Linked DNA regions of Homo sapiens: region 2 is linked to region 1. A link means that fine-mapping ties the variant in region 1 to the expression of a gene that starts in the linked region. Tissue or cell type: esophagus muscle. Region 1 holds a variant in brackets; the other region holds the start of a gene. All regions are shown on one strand. Distances are between the middles of the regions.

What was found. PIP is the estimated chance that this variant, and not a neighbour inherited with it, causes the effect.
Region 2: it holds the start of ATP6V0E2-AS1, and the variant in region 1 is fine-mapped to the expression of ATP6V0E2-AS1 in esophagus muscle (GTEx, PIP above 0.99).

Annotation. Positions count from the first base shown.
Region 1 is chr7:149,913,503-149,921,682 of GRCh38, reverse strand. It overlaps a transcript of ACTR3C not described here. Among named protein-coding and RNA genes, the nearest start is that of ATP6V0E2, 44 kb to the right of the region's middle. The variant A/G (reference allele first, on the strand shown) is at 3,079.
Region 2 is chr7:149,870,010-149,878,189 of GRCh38, reverse strand. ATP6V0E2-AS1 (ATP6V0E2 antisense RNA 1) reads left to right here and starts at 4,328. Exons shown (of 4, transcript NR_027040.1): 1 at 4,328-4,966; 2 at 6,394-6,548; 3 at 7,839-7,948. It overlaps ATP6V0E2 (ATPase H+ transporting V0 subunit e2), which reads right to left and starts at 4,221. Exons shown (of 4, transcript NM_145230.4): 1 at 4,021-4,221; 2 at 2,545-2,592. The coding sequence starts at 4,124. RefSeq lists silencers at 3,785-3,964, 4,375-4,454, 4,485-4,694 and enhancers at 3,985-4,124, 3,454-4,422.

The DNA of each region.
Region 1 (8,180 bases):
CTGGTCTTGAACTCTTGACTTCAGGTGATCTGCCTGCCTCAGCCTCCCAAAGTGCTGGGATTACTAGTGTGAGCCACTGTGCCCAGCTAGAATGGAATTTTAGATAAAGCCACTTTGCTCTTAAATTTAGACAACACGAGCTCAATAAAACAAAAGAACAAAGAAGTAATTTTAAAAGATTAAAGAAAGCTAAAAGGAGGAGATGGAGGTCAGCTGACATCCATAAGGAAAGAAATAGAAAACTAAAATCATTTCAGGAATTAAAAGCATGTTGGAGGTTACATGAGGTAGTACCAGTGGTTCTGAAATCACTGATGTGAGGATCAACTTCCTGAAATTACGTAGACCACGGTAGGAAAGAACAAAGAGGTCATGGTGATTAGAAAGAAGATGGAAGCTGTGGGAGAAGAGTCCAGAAGGCATCTACTGTAGTCAGAGCTGGTGTTCCTGCTGAAGAGAACAGAGTGTGTGGAACAGATGTAACATTAATAAATAAAAGACAAAGTTTTCCTGGAATATAATGAAAGATCATATAATATTAATATAAGGACTCACTGTGAACTGGAAAAAATTCAGAGTCATTAAAATGGAAGCGTATCCTGGTTAATTTATAAAACCTGAAAGATAGGCCGGGCACGGTGGCTCACGCCTGTAATCCCAGCACTTTGGGAAGCCGAGGTGGGCAGATCACCTGGGGTCAGACCAGCTGACCAACATGGAGAAACCCCATCTCTACTAAAAATACAAAATTAGCCAGGTGTGGTGGTGCATGCCTGTAAATCCAGCTACTTGGGAAGCTGAGGCAGGAGAATCGCTTGAACCTGGGAGGCAGAGGTTGAGGTGAGCCAAGATCATGACATTGCACTTCAGCCTGGGCAACGAGAGTGAAACTCCATCTCAAAAACAAAACAAAACAAACCCCTAAAAGATAAAAGAATACTACACATATTTAAGCAGGAAAAAAGCCAACAGGCCACCTATAATGGAAAAAATAAAATCACCTTAGTCTTGGGGTTTTCAACAGTGTAATGTGCCAAAAGATGATGAAGCAATGCTTAAGAATGTAGGGGGACTGGGCACAGTGGCTAATGCCTGTAATCCCAGCACTTTGGGAGGCCAAGGCAGGAGGATTGCTTGAGCCCAGGAGTTGGAGACCAGCCTGGGGAACATAGCAAGACCCTGTCTCTGTCCCCCTGCCCCCTAAAAGAAAAAGCCAGGTGTGGTGATGCGTGCCTGTGGTGTCAGTAACCTGGGAGGCAGAGGTGGGAGGATAGTGTGAATCTAAGAGTTCGAGGTTACCGTGAGTTGTGACTGCGCCACTGCACTCCAGCCTGGGTGACAAAGCGAGACTCTGGCTCAAAAGGAAAAAACAAGAGTAGGGGAGTTAGGGCAAGAAGGAAGACAATGTGATTGGATTGAAATGTCATTAAAATGCAGCATAATAAGACATTTGCAAATGGGCAAAAGCTCAGGAATTAATGGCATTCATAAACCTCACTGAAAAATCTACTTGCAGATATAACCCAGCCAACTGAAAGATGAATCAGTGAGGGCTCCAGAAATAGAGAGGTTGAAGTATAAAGATACCAGCTTCAATAATTGAATAATCTTTCTTGGAGAAATAAGCCAGAAGGCAAAAACAATTGAATAAATACCGACTCAACCTTAAAAATGTCAACACAATGATAACATGCCATAGCAAAATTTCCTGGAAGTCAACAATATCATGGGGGATTAGGTTAGGTTTGGGCTGGGGAGTGGGAGATACCACTGTGCTAATTGTCGTATCTTTCAGAATATGTGGTTAAGGAATACTGTTTCATTTTTTTGAAATTGATAAATTGAGAAGGCTATTATGCTAAAAACAGACTTTGTATACCTTTGAAATGTAAAAGTAAAAGTAAAATTGAGAGGAAGAAAAGCAACCAAATAAAATAGATTACAGAGTAAAAGGAAACAGGCAACAACAAGGAATAGTACAAAAGTTAAAACGAGTAAGACTGTTGCACCTGAGATGACCTCACCTGGCATGGACTCAACTAAATTCACTTTCTGTACTAAACAAAAACTATGGTAGTTACATATAAGTCATTCATTCAGAAAGTAAAAGGTTGGAAAAAAATTCAAAAAAGAAAGTAAAAGGGGCCAGACGCGGTGGCTCACGCCTGTAATCCCAGCACTTTGAGAGGCCGAGGTGGGTGGATCACTTGAGGTCAGAGTTCGAGACCAGCCTGGCCAACATGGTGAAACCCCGTCTCTACTAAAAATACAAAAATTAGCTGGGCATGGTGGTGGATGCCTGTAATACCAGCTACTCAGGAGGCTGAGGCAGGAGAATCGCTTGAACCCGGGAGGTGGCAGTTGCAGGGAGTGGAGATCATGATACTGCACTCCAGCCTGGGCAACAGAGTGACTCTGTCTCAAAAAAAAAAAGCAAAAGGATGGTTCAAAAATAAGCCAAACAAATGCACAGTAAAAGAAAGCGTGAGTATTATTTGATTGCAAAACAAAAAAAATTAAATGAAACAAGGGTTTAATTATTATTTTTTTGGTTTATTTAAAAATGTTTGATTTTATCATTGTACTCCGACCCTGCCAGTTAACTGTGGGTGCAGAGAACCTTTGCTTTACACATTCCGGAAAACTTGTAGAGAAGGCTGAAGCCAGGGAGGAGCAAGTGCCCAGCAGTGTGGGGCGGCAGAGGGTCTCACCATGGCCTGAGTATTTTGGGCTGTCCGCACTTGCTCCTCAGCCCTCCTATTCCAGTCCCACAGGTACATGGGCACCAACAAGTTCCAGAGCCTTTAAGGATCTAGGGAGTGTGTTGGGCTCGTTCTCAGCTCTTGCCCCTGCTGTCTTTCTTATATCTCTAAAGTCAGGCACGATGGGTCCTCAGCTTTTCAGGGCCAAAATCTTGCTGTTGTCACCTTTTCTTTTCTCCACATCCTCATGGTTTAATATTGCTTTAAATTTTTTGTTGTTGTTGTTTTTTGAGATGGAGTTTTGCTCTTGTTGCCCAGGCTGGAGTGCAATGGCGTGATCTCAACTCACTGCAACCTCCGCCTCCTGGGTTCAAGC[A/G]ATTCTCCTGTCTCAGCCTCCCGAGTAGCTGGGATTACAGGCATGCGCCACCGCACCTGACTAGTTTTGTATTTTTAGTAGAGATGGGGTTTCTCCCTGTTGGCCAGCCTGGTCTCGAACTCCCGACCTCAGGTGATCCGCCTGCCTCGGCCTCCCGAAGTGTTGGGATTACAGGTGTGAGCCACTGCGCCTGGCCTAAATTTTTTTTTTAATTTTTAAAATAATTGCTTAAAAATTTTTTTTGCTTTGGTTTTAGTGGGGCTTTGGGAAAGAGTGAAATTAGATAATATGTTTAGTCCATCATTTAAACAGTTAAAACACTTTTAAAACACTTTAACTGGAAGTCAGAGTTTACCTTACAACAATGTTCAGAATTCACAAAAGGGCAGTGTGCTTTATGATCTTATATATACGAAGTAACATAGAGAAAAAAAAAGTACTCAGAAGGAGAAATAGAAAATTTAAGGACGGGCAAAGATACTGGATCTGGATAAAATATTTAAGTTTGAACTTTATATATTGAATTCTTCGTTCTATAGAGACTATGCTTTTCTATGCAGCAAGCCAAGGAACATTAAAAAAATTGGTCATGTAATTTACATTGCACAATATGGAGATTGTGCGTTGCTTTAAAACTATTGTTAGCGTCTGGGAACAATTTTACTTTTATCAAAACCATGTTTAAACTGTGAAAAATCTTAAGAGGGAGTAGAGCTATTCTGATTGAAGTTTGGGGTTTGAGACTGGACCTCACCAGGGGTCTCAATCAAAAGAACTTCTCACAGGACACAGTTTGAGAACACTAGCCAGGCATGGTGTCGTGCACCTATAGTCTCGGCCACTCAGGAAGTTGAGGCAGATGATTGCTTGAGGCCAGGAGGTCAATGCTGCAATGAGCTATGATTGCACCACTGCACTCCAGCCTGGGTGACAGAGTGAGACCCTGTCTCAAAAAAAAAAAAAAAAAAAGATGTAAAACACTGTTTTAAGATGTAACATTTCTACTTTCAAACATAAATTAATTGACCTTAGGTTCATTACCTTCTGCTTAAGACACATGGTTGGAAGAGGAGTTTCAATTATATATAAATATGTTGAGTCAACAATAGGTTAATTTTCCTGACTTTGCAGAACTGAAAAGTCTACATATTACTGCTGTCAAAAGATAGGAGCATTTAACAAGTAAAGTGAAAGAGTCTTCGTGCAAGAACTGTTTAAAATGTTTGGGGCAGGCTGGGTGTGATAGCTCAGCCTGTAATCCCAGCACTTTGGGAGGCCGAGGCGGGCAGATCACCTAAGGTTGGGAGTTTGAGACCAGCCTGACCAACATGGAGAAACCCTGTCTCTACTAGAAATACAAAATTAGCTGGGCGTAGTGGCGCATGCCTGTAATCCCAGCTACTCGGGAGGCTGAGGCAGGAGAATCGCTTGAACCCAGGAGGCGGAGGTTTCAGTGAGCCAAGATCGCGCCATTGCACTCCAGCCTGGGCAACAAGAGCGGAACTCCATCTCAAAAAAAAAAAAAAAATATTTGGGGCAAATAATAATATATTGTATGTACAGAGAGAAGCATCGGAAAGATACACAGGAATAGAAGGTGGATAGAAGGCAGAAATGGGGTAGTGTAAGACTTCTTAAAGGATACCTTTTTATATTGCTTTGAATTTTGAGCTATAACATATTCTTTGCTTAAAAGGCAGACATGTAACTATTGGTAGTGCTTTATGCAGCTATTGATTGGGTCTGCTTCCATAGCTTCCTCTTCTGTCTTTCCTGATTTCTGTATGAGAAAAGGTCTCAGACAAGTTAAGGGACTCATGGAAGGTGGTGTGAGTTTGAGAACATGGCTGGCAATCTGTAAGTATAGTTTATGTATTTTTGAGAGTAGTGCCTACCTCCATCATGCTAGCTTTGGGAAGGTAGTGTTAAAAAAACCAAGGGCTTTTAATGCAAAGTTGATGGTCTTGAATGCTTATATACATATGTTTGGGAAAATTGGATTAGTGTAGTTCTTCCCATTTGGGATAAAATATATATATATAAAAGTGGAAGAGAAATGATATGACATTTTAGCATATAGAGGGACTTTCAAAGTAGAAACATAATAAAGGAAATTATTCAGGAAAATAATTGGTAGATTTGATCACCTAGACTGTTTAAATACTTATATTGCAGAAAATGTATAACAAGGTAAACAACAAGCTGGGAAAAATTAGCAATGTAATGAGCAAGCACAAATATCCTCAGTGTATAAGCATTCACACAAATTGATAAGAAGCACTAAAACTCCAGTAGAAAAGTTATCCAAGGACAATTCATGAGAGAAATAGAGATCACTAGTATACAAAAAATAATATTCAGTAATAAGTAAATAAATCACTGCACCATGAAATCCTACTTCTTTTGAATTAGGAAATATTATCCAAAAATGGCAACATTTAACACTGAGGTAGGGATTATTACCCACGTTTTAGAGATGAAGAAACCAAGGAATGAAGGGATTAATTTACTTGCCTGAAATCACATAGCTGGTGCTGGGATTTGAACCTAGCATTGTGTCCCTATTAAGCTGGCCTCACATTATAAATATATACTGTTTTCAAGCACTTTCAAGCTATATTATATATCCGTTTATGGCAGTAAGTATACATCTTCATTTTTGATGGTTGTATAGAATTTTATTGAATGGATGTAATATAATTTATTTAATATATCCTCTATTTTGAGTGTTTCCAGGTTCTGGTGGTGGTTTTGCTATTATAGTGCTTCACCGAACATTTTTGTGTGTGTATATCTTTGCATACATGTACAAATACTTATGTGGGGTAGGTTCCTAGAAAGGCACTATTTGGCTAATAGGGTATGTGCATTAAAATTTTTGATAGCTAATGTGACACTTTATAATGGCTCTTTAACCCTTTACTATCACCTGTGTATAATTTACCACCACCTTCAGTATTGGCACCAGTTTTGAATGGCTTTGCATTAAATTTGTAGGTAGATTTAGTGATATTCAATATTTCTTTTAAAAATATTGACTCTTCCTCATCCTGAACCAATTGACCAGAAAACAAAAAACAAAAAAAACAAAATGGACTCTTCCTGTGTAAGATTAAGGCATGTCTCTATTTGTCTGCTTGTACATAGAGAGTTTATTTAAAGAGCAATATTATTTTTAAGGGTAGGAGTAATAGCTTATTCATGTAGTTATGTAGTGTATTCTTAAGGGTAACATTCTATTGCTGTTGCCATTCTGAGTGGGATGTTTTCATCCATTATATGTTCTTATTGTTAGACAGGGTAGTTGTTGATTTCTGTCTATTCATTTAGTAACTGGTCATCTTTTTTAATTCCCTTATTGCTTTAGTTTTTCACTTAATTTCCTTAGTTATTCAAGGTATACAGTTATCATCTATAAAGAATGAAATTTGCCATGCGCGGTGGCTCATGCCTGCAATCCTAGCACTTTGGGAGGCCGAGGTGGATCGCCTGAGGCCAGGAGTTCCAGACTAGCCTGGCCAACATGGTGAAACCCCGTTTTTACTAAAAATACAAAAATTAGCAGGGCGTGGTGGTACACGCCTGTAGTCCCAGCTACTCAGGAGGCTGAGGCAGAAGAATCGCTCAAACATGGGAGGTGGAGGTTGCAGTGAGCCGAGATTGTGCCACTGCACTCCAGCCTGGGTGACAGAGCAAGACTCCGTCCAAAAAAAAAAAAAAAAGAATTAAATTTTAATCTCCTCCTTCTTCCCAAAATCCTTTTCCTTTACTCTGTTCTTTTTGATTTGTAATATCTAATTCTTCCTAAACAGTGTAAAATCAGAATAATGATAGTAGATCTCCTTGGCTTAATTCTGGCTTCAATAAGGATTCTTCTAGTGTTTCATTTTATTTTGGTTTGAGATTTTTTTTTTCTCCCATCATCTGTTCCTAAGGAATCTTTCCCTTTTTAGCTTAAGTTTTTTACTTTCCTGGATTGAGCCTAGATTTTTTTTTTTTTTACTACTTCTGTTTGTTTATTTATTTATTTATTTATTTTTGAGATAAAGTCTCACTCTGTTGCCCAGGTTGGAGTGCAGTGGCGCCAGGGCTCACGCGATTCTTGTGCCTCAGCCTCCTGAGTAGCTGGGACTGCAGGCACGTGCCACCATGCCCAGCTAATTTTTTGTATTTTAGTATAAAGATGGGGTTTTACCATGTTGCCCAGGGTGGTCTTGATCTCCTGAGCTCAGGTGATCCAACACCTCAGACTCCCAAAGTGCTAGGATTACAGGTGTGAGCCACTGTGCCTGGCCTTTTTTCACTACTTCTTAATTGCATAGTTTGAATTGGAAAGCATTTCCTACATTATTTTTTTTCATAGAGTACCTAAACACACAGTGTTTTAAATAATAAGACAAAATTGCTGCATTTGGTAGCTGGGCTCGGTGGCTCACACCTATAATCCTAGCACTTTGGGAGGCCAAGGTGGGAGGATCCCTTGAGCCCAAGAGTTTGAGACCAATCTGGGCAACATAGGAAGACCCCTCTCTACAAAAAAATAAAAAAAAACTTAGCCGGGTGTGATGGCATGTGCCTGTGGTCCCAGCTACTTGGGAGGCTGAAGTGGGAGGATCACTTGAGCCCAGGAGGTTGAGGCTGCAGTGAGCCGTGATCACACCACTGTACTCCAGCTTGGGTGACAGAGTGAGACTGTCTCAAAAAAAAAAAAAAAAAAAGGGACATATGAGTTATTTCTTCTGAACTTCTGACCAGTATTAAACTTCAGTATTATAGATATATCGTGCTAAATGTGGTGGGTGGAAGAAGGTTGTGGTATAATGTGACAGTGAGGAAGCTTGCATTATATAAAAATGCTAAAGGTGACTTCATGTGGCGTAGTTGAGGTCAGTGAGTTCTAAGCTGGTTGACCGCCAGAACCATGCGGGTGAGCGAGGGGTGTTAAGAACACAGATGCCCAGCCTTCTCTGGAGATTCCCATTTAGTGAATCGCGCACGGCCCCTGGGAATCTGTTTCCGGAGTTTCCCAGGTGATCTGGTCAGCCACATGTGGCTTATTCTTCCTTGATGCCTACCCAGATCTTAAACTTGCCTTCCAGGTA
Region 2 (8,180 bases), 43 kb after region 1:
GTTCTTCAGGCCAGAAAACCCTCAGGGACCTGCCCCACCTGTCATCACTGCTGGGCGTGTGGGTGGCTGTCTGGCCCCATCATTCATGACAAAGCTCCCAACTTCATTTGCCACAGTAGTTAGTAGGTCCCCACGCTCTGTCAGTGCCTGACCTGGAAGGGCCCCCCACGACCACATCCACACTGCTTTGTCTGTTTCTGCAGGAAGGATCGGTATTTTCCCTCTTTGAATCCCTCACAGTAGGTAGGAGGACCTAACGCCCAGGAAGCCATCAGAAATTGTTACCTCCTTTACATCAGCATTCTCTCCGAGTTTATGTTTTGTAAATATAATTTCTAGGCGTAACATTTTCTTAGAATGACCCCACCTTTCTACCTGTATGCATCCAATTTGCAGTGTGTTTTCTGTTTCCCGTATGTTGATTCAGTTGGTATTTGGGATTACCCCGCATCTTGTGTAGGCCCCGTCTCCCCCACCCTCCCAGCCACCAAACACAAGCCCCTCTGAGGCCCTGCCATGGGCAGATGAGGATCTTTTCTCAAGCCCTGAAGGACCTAGAAATAGCATTAGAGAAAGGACCTCAGAGAATGCTCTGTCCAGGAAGAATTTTGAAAAAAAAAAAAAAAGTGGGTTTAAGTTAAACCATGTGTTAATAGTCATCATTATTTCTAACAAGTTTAGTTTTTGTCAGTAGGAGGGCTTATACATTTCTGGGTGCAGTGGCGTGTACCTGTAATCCTAGCTACTCAGGAGGCTGAGGTGGAAGGATCACTTAAGCCAAGGAGTTCAAGCACAGCCTTAGCAACATGGCAAGACCCTGTCCTACAGAAAATTTAAAAATCAGCCAGGCATGGTGGCACATGCCTGTGGTCAAAGCTAGGCTGAGGTGGGAGGATGGCTTGAGCCCAGAAGGTTGAGGCTGCAGTGAGCTATGATCCCACCACTGCACTCTAGCCTGGGCAACAGAGTAAGACCCTGTCAATTATCTAATTAGTTAACAGCCGGGTGCAATGGTGTGCACCTGTCATCCCAGCTCCTTGGGGAGGCTGAGGCAGAAGGATCATTTGAGCCCAGGAGTTTGAGACCATACTGGCCTGGTCTCAAGACCCCATTTCAATCAATCAATCAATAAAACATAAGGTAAATTAAGAGAATTGGTTAATAGGAATAAAGAATCCATGACCTAATCAGATAAAACAATTTTAACTATGATAACATCAAATCTTAAATCAATGAAGTAAATTTTTTGAAAGTGGGTTTTGTCCTATGTATTTTGAAAAATTTGGCAACCCTGGAAAATATTCCAGTTGTTTCAAAAGAATCTGTTACCTCTTAAAGAATGAGCATCTCATCACTTTACCTGTCCTGTTTTGATTATTCTGAATTAAGAACACCCAACGATGCCAAGCTTAACCCATAAAAATAATGTACAAGACATAGGAAGATGGGAAACCCAACAGCCTTAATGCAGCTTGATTAACCATGAGACAGGCCTCCCAACAAACTAGAACTTGAACTTATCTCTTGGTTGGCAGCCAGGATCATCTAAACATGGAGCAATGTAACCGCAGGTTTGGGATGGATGCGGGGGCAGGGTCTTTTTCTTTTTCCTTTTAAAAAATTTTTTTAATAAAGAGGGATTGGCTATTGTGAATGGCAGTTTTAGCAAGAGACTAAACAATAGACACTGAGGATCTGCAAACTGATTTCCTCACACTCTCCAGGTATTCAAGTCCCTTGGAATGTTCTTCTATATCCCCAGGGTACCTATTCCAAGTTTGATGACTTACTCTCACCTAGTGGTTCTTTTTTTAGAGTCGGAGTCTCACTCTGTTGCCCAGGCTGGAGTGCAGTGGTAAGATCTTGGCTCACCGCAACCTCCGTCTCCCGGGTTCAAGCGATTCTCCTGCCTCAGCCTCCTGAGTAGCTGGGACTACAGGCACGCGCCACCAGGCCTGGCTAATTTTTGTATTTTTAGTAGAGACGGAGTTTCACTATGTTGGCCAGACTGGTCTCGAACTCCTGACCTCGTGATCCACCCACCTCAGCCTCCCAAAGTGCTGGGATTACAGGCGTGAGCCGCCACGTCTGGCCTCTCACCTAGTGGTTCTAAGATGGCTGCATTCCAGTCACCTGGGGGCATTCATGAACAACAGGAATTCCCAAGTGCAGATCTCGAGAGTTGTAATTTCATGGGTGTAGGGTGCAGCCTGAAAACTGTGTTTGAACAATCACTCCAGGTGACCCAGTCAGGCACAGACAGCACTGAGGTGGCCTGCCTCCTTCCTTGCCCAGGTGAGAAAACTACAGCCCATGGGGGCCAGAACTCTGGGGGCAGAGCCAGATCCAGAGCCCAGGGTTCATGACTTCTGGCCCACTGCTCTCTTTCCCATTCCACACCACCTCCACTCCTGTTGTTTTATAGGTTCAGCCTTTCAAGAGGCATTTACTACCAGGACAGAAGGAAGAGCAGGCTAGGGTGAGGAGGAAAGGAGGGAGGACAAAGGAACTGGCTGACTTTGAGCTGGGGAGAGTAGTACTTACAAGAGGTAACAGCAGACGGCGGTGGCGACCAGCATGGTGATGATCACTCTGCAGCAGAAGAGGACACGGGTCAGAACAAATGCAGCCAGCACCTCACAAGGCCTGGCCAGGACCAGAGCAAGAAGAGCTCCTGGTGTGAGCTCTTTTCCATTGGCCTTCCTGATGCCTCCTGGACACAGGAGGCTGAGTTCTACTCAGGGTAAGAATAGCAAGGCAGAAAATAAAAACTGAAAGTGTCACCTCACAGAGAGGCCAACCTTGACCACATCCAAGTTGCCTTAAGAATCCTTCCCTTCATTTCCCTTCTCTACCACCCAATATTGCTCCATCTTAATGCAGACGTGTTGTGGAAAGGCACTGCACAGAGCTGCATTTGTGGCAACCCAACAGGGAGTGGTCTGTAGAATTCAAAATTCATGGAGCAAGGGGAAGGAAAACAATAGGCTAGAAGACAGGGCAAGAAGCAGGCAGACTGTGAGCCAGTTCTGAGGCCCAGTGAGTTGTTACAAAGAGAACAGGGACTAGCCACTTTGCGTGTACTCAGAGAAGACCAGAGACAGATGCTTCAAGTGCAGCAAAAGAAATTTCAGTCAAACTGAAGCAAGAACTCACCAAGAATAGCAGGAGACGCAAGACACGAAAATGGTTTACAAAGTGAAGCTGTGGGATCCCAAACCCTGCCTGTCTTTAAGAACAAAGGCAGCACTCACATGTCCAAACGGCCTTTGGGCAAAGCTAACTCTAATCCAAACGAGGCCCTTGATCTTTGATCTAAAGCACTGCAAGCTGGTGCTGGACACAGGAGCACGCGATCCCTTTTTCAACATTACTAAGCAGGTTGTGCCAGTCCTGGCTGGGCACTGAGTAGACAATGGTGAACTGGACAAACTCCAGCCCCTGGGAACATGCAGTCAAGGGAAGGGTGCTTTGTAACTGAAGATAATATGAAGCAGAAACTGGTGAATGGCGCAGCAATCTGCTAGAGGACCTTCGAAAAATAACGCCAGCTAAACTTATCCCATACCTACAAAGTGTCACGCACTGGTAGGTGTTTTAAATGCGTTACCGCAGGTCATCCTCACAGCAGCCTTTTAAGGCAGGAGTCGACATTATCTCCATTTTACCCATGAAGAAACTGAGACTTGATATTGGCTCTAGGTCACACAGCTAGCAAGGAGTGGAGAAACTGCGTCAGTGCCCACTTGTGCCCTTTACTGGCTGCAGGAGGGGTGACAGACATCTCCAATGTCACTCTCCTCTTTACCTTCTGGATATGCCCTCTCGCCCCACCTCCTGCCTGTTCCCGGCTGTCAGAGACCCAGGTGCAGAGAGACCTCAGAGGTGGCGTCCGGGGTCCTGGCGTCCCTCCTGCGGACGCTCGCTGCAGAGCAGGAAGCCGCCGCCCCGGGGCGGAGGGGCGAGCCGGGCCAGGGGGCCGGGGTGGAGAGGTCTGCAGGGCCTGCGCGCTTTCCTTACCCGCGGTTGGGTCCCTTCGGCACGAACCAGGGCCCGGCGATGCCGACGAGGCCCCAGAACGTGGTGAAGATGATGACCGGGAGGGCGAATGAGTGCGCCGTCATGGCCGGGCGCAGGATGCCCAGGCAGGATGCAGGGCCGAGCAGCGGGCGCTGCAGGTGCGCGGGTCCCCAGCCGGGCAGCGCGCTGAGCATGCGCAACAGGAGTCGAGCACCCGAAGCGATCAGCCGGGCCGGGCCGCGCACGCGCATCTCCTGATCCAGCCCGCCGCGCTGTCACTCAGGACCTGCCTAGGAGCCCACTCGCTGATTGGCTGAGCAGGGCCGCGGACAGAGAGAAATGCCGAGGAATAGGGGCGCGGCCGCCCGGTTTCGGCGATGGGTTATAGGGTCCGCGTCAGCCCCGCGCCCGCACAGCCAACGTCACGCCGCATTCTTATTTCCAAAGACCCCTGGAGCTTGGGGTCCCACCCCAGCGGTCTTTCGGGGCGTCCCCTGCCCTTCACGCGCCGCGCCGGCTCGGCCCGAAGCGCCCTGCGGACCCGCAGCCTGGGCCGCCCCGAACCTGACGGCCCCGCGGGGGTCGGACGCGGGAGGAACGGCCTCGCTTTCAGAGACGCAGCGGGAGGGCGGTCCCCGCTGTCCCTCTGGCCGGGTCCTCAGCACGCGTTCTCCTCACTCCCAGGACTAGCGAGCGGCGGGCGCGGACCGGGGCCTGGGGTCGGAGGCGGCGCAGCCAGAAAGGCCCCAGCGGCGCTGAGACGTTTGGGGGAAGGCGGGGGCTTCGCGTTTCGATGGCGGGAAGCGGAATGAGGTTGGACCGGCCGGGCCGGCGTTCAGGGACCCGGCGGGAGGCGGAGGGCTGGCGTCCTCGCGGACATCCATCTGCAGCGAACCAGGCAGAGGCTTTGGGATTAGATCCTTGACTCCTTGCGTCAGTAGTTAAGGTTTGTTTAAATATAAAATGGGATGGCCCTTCTTACAAGGTTGCTGGAGGATTAAATGAATAGGCATGTGGAAAGCACCTAGTATAATAAGGCTCGGTAGTTTCTTCCATCAGGGCTGGAAGAGACCACGGAGCCTGCTTTCCTCCTTCGGCGTTTGGATCTCACATATCCCTTCTTCTCTGGCGATCAAAAATCCCTATCTTCTGTAGAGATCCCTTTTACAGATCAGTGGCCTCCAGGCGGTATCTCTAGCAACAAGTGCTACCCCAAGCGGCCGGCCACACATATTCCCTGGCTTCATGACATAGGGAGGCGCAGTCCCCACGTGATGCAGAAGGGAAATGTGCCTGTCCTTGCACTGACCCCGTCAGCCATGTGTGCTCCTGGCTGTTTTCTGAAATCAAGAACCAGTTACATCCGCCCTTCTCCGTTCTCTAGTTGAAACCTCCCTATCCATCCTTCCAACATTCATGTAAGTTGGAGGTGGGCGTGGGATGACACCAAACTGTTAGGTATAAAATACCATCCTAGCCTTCGAGGGGTTTCTAAAGTAGTTGAGGAGTGATATATTCTGGTAAAATCATAATGCTGGACAGCGCAGTTCTAAGAGCCCTGTGATCAAAGTAGCCAAATGCCCATTATGAGAATTCAGAGGGTGGAGAAATCCAGGAAGACTCCCTGGAGGAGGTGAGATTTTAGCTGGATTGTAAACAATGGTTATTTTTCTCATCCAGAGTGTGTACATTGTTGAGAACACTGGCCTAGGATAAGGGTGCACTTGGCATCCAGGAGATAGAGTTAAGAGTATGTCCATACAGGCCTTCAAAAAATCACCACGAGGGCTGAGCGCAGTGGCTCACACCTGTAATCCCAGCACTATGGGAGGCAGAGGCGGGCGGATCACGAGGTCAGGAGATCGAGACCATCCTGGCTAACACGGTGAAACCCCGTCTCTACTAAAAATATAAAAAAATTAGCTGGGCATGGTGGCGGGCACCTGTAGTCCTAGCTACTTTGGAGGCTGAAAGGAGAATGGCGTGAACCCGGGAGGCAGAGCTTGCACTTGCAGTGAGCCGAGATTGTGCCCCTGCACTCCAGCCTGGGGGACAGAGTGAGACTCCGTCTCAAAAAAAAAAAAAAAAAAAAAATCACCACGAAAGTTCTATAGCTCAAAAAAGACGGACTTTTTGAATTTTGTTCTGGAAAAAAAAAAATCCTCTGTAGAAAATGACAGCTGTAAAGTGAAATGTATTTCCTTCTTTGCCTCTGCTCCTTTGTCTTGGCTTTGGCCAGAACCAAAAACATTGCTGAGTCTGAGCAGCCACTCATATTAGCAGCCTGCAGCTCTTACTCTTTTCCTTTAATGTCTTTGATGTTTCATTTCTGTCCTAATTTGCATGTGATTGCCTGTGTCATTTGTTTGGCAGCTTTGTGATGGTCTGAGGTCCATGAAGGGATTAAAACCAGGAACTGGCTCCTTCTCCAACCACTAAAGCCTCATCTGGGCCCACAAGCCCTGGCTGTTCCCTGGAGCGTGACTGGAAGATGTGAGCAGCTTTGTGCTGGAGCCCCATTTCCATGGGTAAACTGTTCACCTGATCAAACAGCTCCCCAGAGTTCCACAGTACCACATATTTATTTTCTAGAACTTTGTTTTTAGCTGAAAGGGATCTTAGAGGCTAAGGCAATCCTATCACTTTACAGGTGATAAAACTGAGGCCCAGAGAAGTGAAGTAACTTGCCTAGGCCCACACAGCTCATCAGTAAAAGAGCCAGAACACATGGCCGAGACTTCTCCCTAATCCAGCGTCTCCTCCACACTCCCAGCTCACCCCTAGGGTTTGTGCCCAGGCTGAGGACACTATTTTCAGAGGCACTAATGTGAGGCAAAGGGCATGTTACCAGACACAGCCCCGCCTACCCCGGTCCCCTGAGGTGGAGCTGTGCATTCCACTGGCTTCACGGTTCCCCTCTGCCCTGGCGGCTTCTGGTTGGTATTGGCGCCACCGACTGCTCTGCCATGGCTCCTCAGTGAGTGCTTTGGGTGTGATTGACAAGTTTCCATGACATCTCCCAGGGAGTGGGGTCCTGATGTTGGTGACATCTCTATCGTTCATCTTTTCATGGGGCTGATGAATTCCTAGAAAGGGTAGAAGGAGAAGGAGCCACTGAAAGAGGCTCTTTAAAACTTCCCTGAGTGTCCCCCAGTGCAAATGAACAGGAGCCCCAGGACACTTGAAGGCCCTAGGAAATCACACCTCAGAGCCACAGATGCATCCTAATGCTCTCTGCAGACGGGGCACGTGTCGGAGGTGAGAACAACAGCTCCAGATGTCTCTGTCTTTGCAAATAAGGCCTGTGACATTTAATGATGTAACCACCTACCTTCCACCCATTGTTCTGGTGGCCATGAGTAGAAGGAATTATACCAGGATGTGATAAGAAGGAATTAGGAGCTGGGAGTCTTGCTGGGTGAGGACCTTGGCCCCTTGCTTGCTTGCCATCTAATAGGGGCACTCCTGGCCTGTGGGGTCAGGGAGAACTAGACCCAGAGCATGGTTGTCTCTGTGACTAGTTGAGCCTGTTTCTCCTTCAAGGGCCCTGGCAGTGGGAAAACATATTATGACAATTGCACTGTTTTATCAGCCCTTGGCACTCCTGAAGTTGCCCTGAAATAAACATCCCTACCTGTATGCCAGGCCCTGCCTACTTCTGGAGCTCTCTTAGGTTTACAACCTACCCCCGCTGTCCCAAATTGATAGGGTGAGCCCAGGGCATTAAATGGGTGGTGCAAGTCAGGCTTCAGGACTGACACGGGTCTATGTGCGCTCAGTGTGGGTTGAGGGGCACTGGGCTGTCTTTCTCCCTACAGTGCATGCTGCTGCCAAACCAGAGATCACTTGTAGACTTGAAAGGGAACATGAGCTTTGGGTGAAGGATTCCCAGCCCCCAACAGAGGCCAAAAAGCTACCACCCAGCCAGGTAAGCCTTGATGGAACATCTCTTGCACAAAGATCACCATGTTCATTGAGCCTTTAGTGCCTCCTGGGCTCTGATCAACCCACGAATCAGTATCTCCGCAGCACTTCCTGTGGTTTGGATTCAGGTTTTTTACTTCTGTTTCCTGCCTTTATGATAGGAGTTTGGGTAACCTGTGAGAAACACAGCCACAGTGTAAACCTCTTGAGACAAGCTACACTGATGGGACAATCAG